2 linked regions of the Homo sapiens genome follow. The protein of the gene in region 2 purifies or fractionates together with the protein of the main gene of each other region. This does not show direct contact. Each region holds a gene or a part of one and is shown on either strand. Other genes may lie near its edges. The genes, in order: ADGRG5 and ABCG1.

Region 1 (3,806 bases), on a different chromosome or scaffold from region 2:
TCAGGATGCATACATACCATGAGAACAGCAAAGTAGGTGAGGTGGTTGCAGCGGCAGAGCACCTGAGAGTGGGAGGGCTGCTCTGTACGACAGCCCTCAGGGCTCCAGCCCCCCCAGGGCTGTTTCCTGGCTCCCTCCTTCCAGAAGACACAGGTCAGGGTGTAGCCTTCCTGGGTGGAGATGCTGGGTCAGTCATAGGGTGCAGAGGAAAGGCTGCAGATCAGTGTCTGGGAGTCCTGGGGGCCAACGGTGACTCAACTGCACATTTGCCAACATTTTACCAGGCACTGGCTGGCCTTTGGCTTCAGACAGTCTCAGATTCCTGTCCCACCTCCACTGTGGGCTCTCAGAGTGACCCAGGCAAGACACCAAGTTGCTCTGAGCCTCAGTTTAGTCATCTACAGAATAGGATCATTCGTACCCATGTTACAACAATGGTGGAAAAACAAAGGGCAACACGGAATCTTGAGTGTCCAGCTCTGGCCTTTTATACAGTAGGCGCTCCATAACCAGCTGATCCCTTCCCTTCCTCCCCATGGGGAACAGCAATGTGCTCAGACCCACGCCTGGTTGGGGGAGACTCATCCACAGACAACCCTAATGCCAAGCCACGTGGGTGGAGAAGTGGAGGAAATGACACAGGTAGTCACGGAAGACCATGGAGGGTAGGCAGAGCTGACCCAAAGGGAGAAGGGGAGGTGGGGGCCCTGAACCCTTAGAGGACGTGTTGGATTTCAACACGAGTAGGGCAAGGGCATTCCAGGTGGAGGGAACCATAGTGGCAAAAGCCCAGAGCTGAAAGGAAAGGATGATGGTGAAATTTAGAGTGCAGGGCAGTCCTGGTGAAGCTGAAGGGAAGATGAAGCCAGAAAGCAGAGGCTCCGGGCTTTTCAGGAATGCCAGGAACCAGAAATGGAGGCACTGAGGCTTGTGAACCACCCCACTCTGCCCCCACCCCCAACAAGCAGCCCTGTCTCTGTTCCAGGATCAGCATCTGCACTTACCCTAGGAGCTCACTCCTTCACCCCAGTCCCTGGGCCGTGTGACCCAGGCCTGGCCAATCCACACATTCCATCCCCCTGGGCACAGTGACAGGTGCAGGGATGGACATGTGTGACCCAGCTGAACCTTTAAGATCCTGAGACCCTGATCTGCACTGGGGCAGGTTGTGGGTGGGGAGTCGGGGGAAGAGCCTGATGGGAAGAGGGAAAGGAAGTCTGGCTCTCCAGCATCCATCATGCCACAGAATGGACAGCCAAGACAGGAGACCATTGCTGAGACGGAGAGAGACTGAGCCACAAGGGCATCAGATCCATCCCTGGATCCAGCTATGTCTGAAGCTGGTGGATCACCTCTAGACATTTCATGGATGTGTGCCAATCAGTTCCCTCTGTGCTCAAGCTGGCTTGAAGTGGTCTTTTCTTACTTGCAACTGAAAGAATTCTGACAAATGCATGAGTAAAAACTTCTCTCTCTCTTATTTCTTGAGCAGGAATTTTCAAAGTGTGATGGATTTCCAAGATGGTTCCACAGGTTTGGGTCTAGTCAAACCAGTGTTCAACAGGAGAGTCACAGAGGGGCAGGGGTGCAGTGGAAACGGGGGCGCCCCCAGCAGTACCAGGCTTTGGTTGTGCCAGAAGCTGATGTTCACAGGATCCCTGAGGTTGTTCACGTGCCCATGACTCAGCTGGGCCCCCAGGACGTAGTTATTCAGCAGAGATGAGTTGTTTTCATCCTGGAAGGGCAGCAGGAGAAGGGCTGAGTGGAGGGGAAATGGGGAGGCCCTGGGTAAGGTCTGAGCTCCGCTTCCCTGGATGAGAACAAGCAGCAAGACTTTCACGTGTGCAGCGTGAAAGCTTTCTCAGCCTCCCAGCCTCCCAGCCTTCCCAGCCTCCCAGCCTTTGCATGTGCTGTTTCTGCCCTGTGGAAAGCTGTCCTCTCACCACCCCCTGCTCCACCTCCCATTCGTTTAATGCATTCCAGCCTCACGCCCTCCACCTCACCACTATCCTCACTCACTTTCAAAGCCAAGGTTGAAAGGCACCTTCCCCAGAAACTCCCCTGGACTGCCCACTGGGAAGAGCCCCAACCCCACCCTGACTCATCCATCACTCTGGATCTCTATGGCTATAATCAACCTTCTGCTGACATTAAATCTCTAAGATCAGGCCAGGCTCAGTGGCTCACGCCTATAATCCTAGCATTTTGGGAGGCCAAGGCAGGCGGATCACTTGAGGCCAGGAGTTCAAGATCAGCCTGGCCAACGTGGTTAAACCCGGTCTCTACTAAAAATACGAAAATTAGCTGGGCATGATGGCACACGCCTGTAATCCCAGGAGGCTGAGGCAGGGGAATTGCTTGAACCCAGGAGGCAGAGGTTGCAGTGAGCCGAGATCATGCCACTGCACTCCAGCCTGGGCAACAGAGCGAGACTCTGCCAAAAAAAAAAAAAAAAATCTGTAAGGTCTTAGTCTAGGCATCAAGACAGAGAGTTATCTGAGGGCAGGGAATAATAAGTGCCTTCTTGTCTGTCTCCCGCCTACCGACAGGCACATCGTAGGTTTCTTAGGTCTTATTTGCAGATTGTAATTATACCTTCCTACCATTCTGCTAAAGTTGGCAGGGAAACTGAGGCCCAGAGAGGGACAATTGCTGGCTTGGATTGCACAGATGGCTGGTTGGTCTCACTCAGTGCTGGTCACCCAGAGGCCAGGCAGTGACATGGGCACCTGCAGTGGATCCCAAGAAGGGGCCGGCACCCACCCTCCTTGGCCCGCCATCACACTGACCTTGAAAAAGTGGGTGTTGGAGAAGTAGATACAGATGAGCCGCAGCTCCCTGGGGCGGGTCTTGCAGGCGTCCCGGGTCAGCTCGGCGGGGAACTGCATGGCGTGCTGACCCCGGGCATGCTGACCTCCTGCCTGCAGAGGGTCGCAAACAGGCTGTTTGGCAACCAGGACCTGGAGACCTGACCCCAACACCTTCACTGCCTCCCACTCCCCGTGAAACCTTCCTTGGGGTTTCCACCCACAGAACCTTCTCCCCCCAGGCTGCATCTCCTCCCAAACTTCCCAAGATCCCAGGCCTTCCCTCCATGCTGTTCCTGAGTTTTGGATGTTTACCTGACCCACTGAACCCCTGAAGATGGAGCTACCTCAGCACCCAGCCCCAGCACCAGCCCCAGCCCCTGCCAGGGATCCAGCTGATCACCCCAGGGTCCTAAAAGGAGCCAGGGTTTCTGGCCTCTCCCACAGCGCCTCCCGCAGCGGGCAGCCTCCAGCCAAAGCAGGAAGAAGATTCTGCCCTGCAGGGGCAATAAAGCACCTCCCTTTCCACAGTTCACACAGCGAGTATGAGCCCCATTTTACAGAGGAGGCAACTCACTGCCAGTTAGGGCAGAGCCTGGACTGTGGGGTGTGGGGAGGAAGACAGTGGAGCCTAAAGAAAGTCCAGACCTTAAATGCCTGGAGGACTTCTAGGGCGGGGCAGCTGGCCACACCCCCCAACCCGCAGCCTCTGACCTGGGGCACCCGCTTCAGAGTGGCACTGGTCAGCGAGAGGCCAGAGAAGTCACAGCTCAGCTTGAAGGCCAGAGACTGGATGGTGGGTGTCTGCAAGGTCAGGTTGTAGCCTGGGAAGCTGGTGTTCAGTAGCATCTGCTCCAGCTGGTGGAGTTGACTGCAGCCCAGAGAGATGGCCAGGGAGGCCAGAGCCCGGAGTGGGGTAAGGGTGAGAGGGGGCTGTAGACAGCCTGGGAGGGCAGGGCCTCCCCACCCACACCTCTGTCACACGCACCTCCAGACCAC
Region 2 (3,806 bases):
TGATGGTTACTTGAAAGAGTGGATGCAGAGTGCACAGAGCAGCATGGAGTCCGTGGGGGCTGTTCCCAGCACTCTTGTCATCGCTGAGGTAGGCATTAAGGGCAGGAACACGGTCACACACACCAGGGCTCTCGGGGAGGGGGACAGAGTCACTTTTGTTCTTGTAAATAGGTTTGACTTGAAAGCAAGGTCTCTGAGGTGCCAGGAAGGCAACGAAACAGATCTGCAGTACCCCTCAAAGCAGTCATGACCCACGGTAGCCACACCACGGCACAGGCTCTGGGAAGCAGGCTGCACGCCAGGAACAAGCAGGGCACTGCGCACGGAGCCCTCCCTGTCTGCTCCGGATTATTGATCCTGTATCGACTCAGGGAACACGAAGGTCAGCAGATTTCTGTGCTGGCTTGGTGCTGCTTTCAGCCCCAGCATCATCTCAGAAGCAGGCCCTGGGTCAGCCACTGCCATCCCTGCCTCCCTACCCTGGGGACAGCCCACCTGGAGCTCCCTCCAGCATTCACCCAGCTATTGTCCCCACCCTGCCAGGGCAGCCCTGTGGTGGCCGGCCCCTGGGAGCCATAGCAAGCGGACCCTACTCCAGCGGCTCCTCTAGGGAGATGAAGTCATCTGAAGGGAGGAAGAACTCACGAGGAAGAAAATTTCCACTCTGAGCTTCTGAATTATTTATGCACAGTCGGTACAAAGTGCAGCTTTGGTGACAGAAAGAACCGGGGCACGGCTGCTGGACAGGCCAGGGCAGGTGGCAGTACAGGGTCAGCCGACCTGGGCTCCAGCCCTGTCCTGAACCTCCTTGCTGATGCCCTCACCCCAGCCCTGGTGCCTCTGCTGGATGCCTGGCTCTGAGGGCCGCCAACCCAGAAACAGCTTCTGGAAGGCTGTCTGGAAAAGGCTGGTGGGTGGGGGGCGTGCAAGGTGGGCAGAGCCCTCTTCCCAGCTGGCATCGACTGCTGGTCTTCCCAGGACGAGGCCTCCAGATCTTCTGGAACCACTGGGCGACGCTCTTGGCCGACTGAGTGGCTCTGGTGCTTCCAGGCTCACTGTGGGGGCCCCACACATGCGGCACATCTTCTTCTCTCCCTCCACCCTCACGGAGGGGATGCTGGAAGCGGAGGCCGCTGTGGGTGCCTTTCCCTCCGCACCCCTGCCCATGAGCTGGGCCCACCCCACTTTCTCCAGTGTCCGCTCAGGAGTGATGCCACCCAGAAGGGTTCTGTTTTAAAGACTAGTCAGAAAGAACAAACAATGATCTCAGTTATTTATACATTTTCCCTAAACAAACAAACAAAAAACCTGCAAGGCCACTTGTAGCTCCAGCCCCCCTGGGGCTTCCCGGCGGGCGCTCCAGGGAGGATCTCGGCAGCCCAGGCTGCCCCTGGAGACCTCACTCCTGAGGAAGTGGCCTTGCTGGAGGGCTCTGGAGGGCTGAGGCTGCTTTGCTGGGAATTAAGGAAGGCCGTGAACAACACAGCAAAAATTCCATGATCTTCTAGAACATTCCATCCCATTGTGTTTCCATGAGACAGAGAGAGAACTTTGACCTAGGTGCACATCGGGGGTTGGAGGGAAGTGAGTGAAGGCACAAAGTTGCTGCCCTGTTCTCCTGAAGCAATCCTGATGGTGGGCCCGATGGCGAGGCATGCACCTGTGCCATGGCTGAGGAACAGCTGGGTCTGCTGGTGAGGAGCATGTGCAGGACGCAGCGTGGCCTCCAGGTCCTGTGGGGAGGGCTCTCTGCATTGTTCAATCCAGCCGAAGAGGAATCTGAGGACGGCGCCAGGGGCTCACCCCTCAGGGATGATTCAGCCACATGAGCTGATATTTTTGCCCTTGTAAACCCAGTTGAAAATAGCTGGAGGCTCTCATCCGGGCCGTGTCTTAGGCAGGGCCCAGGCACCACGAGGACACACACCTATGGGTGCCATCTGCCTTCGGGTCCCGTGTAGCTACTCCTGGGAGGCGCCTCCATTCTCCACCAAGATGCCAGCTTGTTCTGGGTCTTCCAGCTCCGGCAGGCCAAGGGCCTGGCTTGCTGTGACTTCAGCACGGAGCCTGCTGAGCAGCACTCACTGTGCGCCCAGCCCATGGGGAGAGCGACTTTCACCAGCTACCCCGGAAAAGGCTGGTGGCTGTCGCCTTATGCTGCAGGGAAGCAATCCCACAGCCCCTCCCATATGGATCACATGGGCTCCATCGAGCTCAGAGACCTTAAAGAAACCATCCAGTTCAGGTTGCACTGCCCCAAAAGGCAGGTGGGGCCTGGCTTCCTGTCCCCACGTTACAGGTGAAGCTCGGCTCGGGGCACAGCAGGCAGTGGCCCAAGGCCATCCGGTGGGTTCCAGGAGGCCAGGATGGAGGGCTCCCCCGTGTGCTCAGCTCTACTTCACCACAGGGCCTCTCCGTGTTAGCAAGTCTCTCCGCCCTCCGCCTCCTGCGTCTGCTCCCCCGGCCTCCGGTGATCCCCGAGACCCTCTCCACCGTTTGCTCTGTCCTTGGGCCTTATTTTGGGTCAGAGAGACAGAATTCCCTCTCTCCAGCGCCTCCCTCTCCAGAGCTCTTGGCTCCTCCTCCACGCCGAGCATCAGTGACCACTTCCACCGTCTCTCCTTGGAGCCCCCACAGCCGCCCCTCAGCTTGCAGGCCAGCATCTGGAGGGGTCTTTGGGACCTCGATGGAGGGCTATCCGAGACAAAGAGATTGGATTGTGCTTCCGACACCCCATGAAAGCAGGGAGGCCGGGGGATGGGAAGGAGGGCCCTGAAAGGCGGATCCAGGGGCACTGCATCCAGGCTTCGGGAGGAGCAGCTTCTTGAGTCTCCGGGTGGAAAAGCCTCTGCTTCATGGGGGCCCTGCACACTCTTGCCGGCCTCTCCTCTTGTCCTGTAGCTGATGGCAAGGAGGGCCCAGGACTGGGGGGTGGCAAAACTGACCTCAGACAGGGAGAGTGAAGGTCGCCCTGGCTCAATCCCAGGGCCCCGTTCTGTTGATTTGGGTTCATCTCCCATGGGAGACTTCGCCGAGACTCAGCTCTGACACCTGCTTTTCTCCATGTTCTTCTGTGTGCCTGGAACTAAGGCTCTCGTTTGTTACGTTCACTGCTGTAACGAAGTCCCCCACACTGGCTGGTTTCCACAACAGAAACTCCCGCCTCAATTCTGGAGGCCAAAGTCTGAGATCGAGGGCAGCAGGGTTGGTTCCTGAGGCCCCTCTCCTGGGCTGGCAGATGCCGCCTCCTCCCTGTGTCCTCACGGGGCCATCCCTTGGTGTGTCTGGGTCCTCCTCTCCTCTTCTTACAGGGACACAGTTAGACTGGACTGAGGCCCACCCATATGACCCCATTTTAACTTCATTACTTCTGTAAAGACCCGATCTTCAAATACAGCCATTTCTGGGTTTCTGGGGTGTAGGCTTTAACATATCATCTTTTGGGGGGAATTCAGGCCATAACACTCATCTTCCATAACTTGGTATAAGTAACATTCTCGGGCTTGGGAGGTGGTGTGTGTGTTGTGGGGGGGTGTCTACGTTACATTGTTTAGAAAACACTATCCAGAGGGGGCTCTCGCCTTTCAGCCTAGACAATAAACTCACAAGGCTGGGTCTTCTGCCCCCATGAAGGGCCAGGAACACATGTGATTTCCACATTTTCTCTCTTTTGGTTTCCACTCATCCATTTTCTTTTCAATCTCAGAATAAAAGAATTCCACACAGAACATTTTCTGTAGCAACAAAGAGTCATTTTCCTTCTCTCAGACATTAGGCTCTTTCCACCTGCACCGGGCATTTCACCC

What was found.
Region 1: the proteins of ABCG1 (region 2) and ADGRG5 purify together in Homo sapiens (co-immunoprecipitation; one large-scale study listed by IntAct). This does not show direct contact.

What each region holds. Positions count from the first base shown.
Region 1 is NC_000016.10:57,562,963-57,566,768, reverse strand, and holds part of ADGRG5 (adhesion G-protein coupled receptor G5 isoform 1 precursor), read right to left. Parts: intron 3,679-3,806; coding exon 3,522-3,678; intron 2,922-3,521; coding exon 2,790-2,921; intron 1,736-2,789; coding exon 1,619-1,735; intron 1,481-1,618; exon of another isoform or gene 171-1,480; coding exon 18-170; exon of another isoform or gene 1-17. UniProt on the Homo sapiens protein: Orphan adhesion G-protein coupled receptor (aGPCR). Ligand binding causes a conformation change that triggers signaling via guanine nucleotide-binding proteins (G proteins) and modulates the activity of downstream effectors, such as adenylate cyclase.
Region 2 is NC_000021.9:42,278,014-42,281,819, reverse strand, and holds part of ABCG1 (ATP-binding cassette sub-family G member 1), read right to left. Parts: intron 1-3,806. UniProt on the Homo sapiens protein: Catalyzes the efflux of phospholipids such as sphingomyelin, cholesterol and its oxygenated derivatives like 7beta-hydroxycholesterol and this transport is coupled to hydrolysis of ATP. The lipid efflux is ALB-dependent.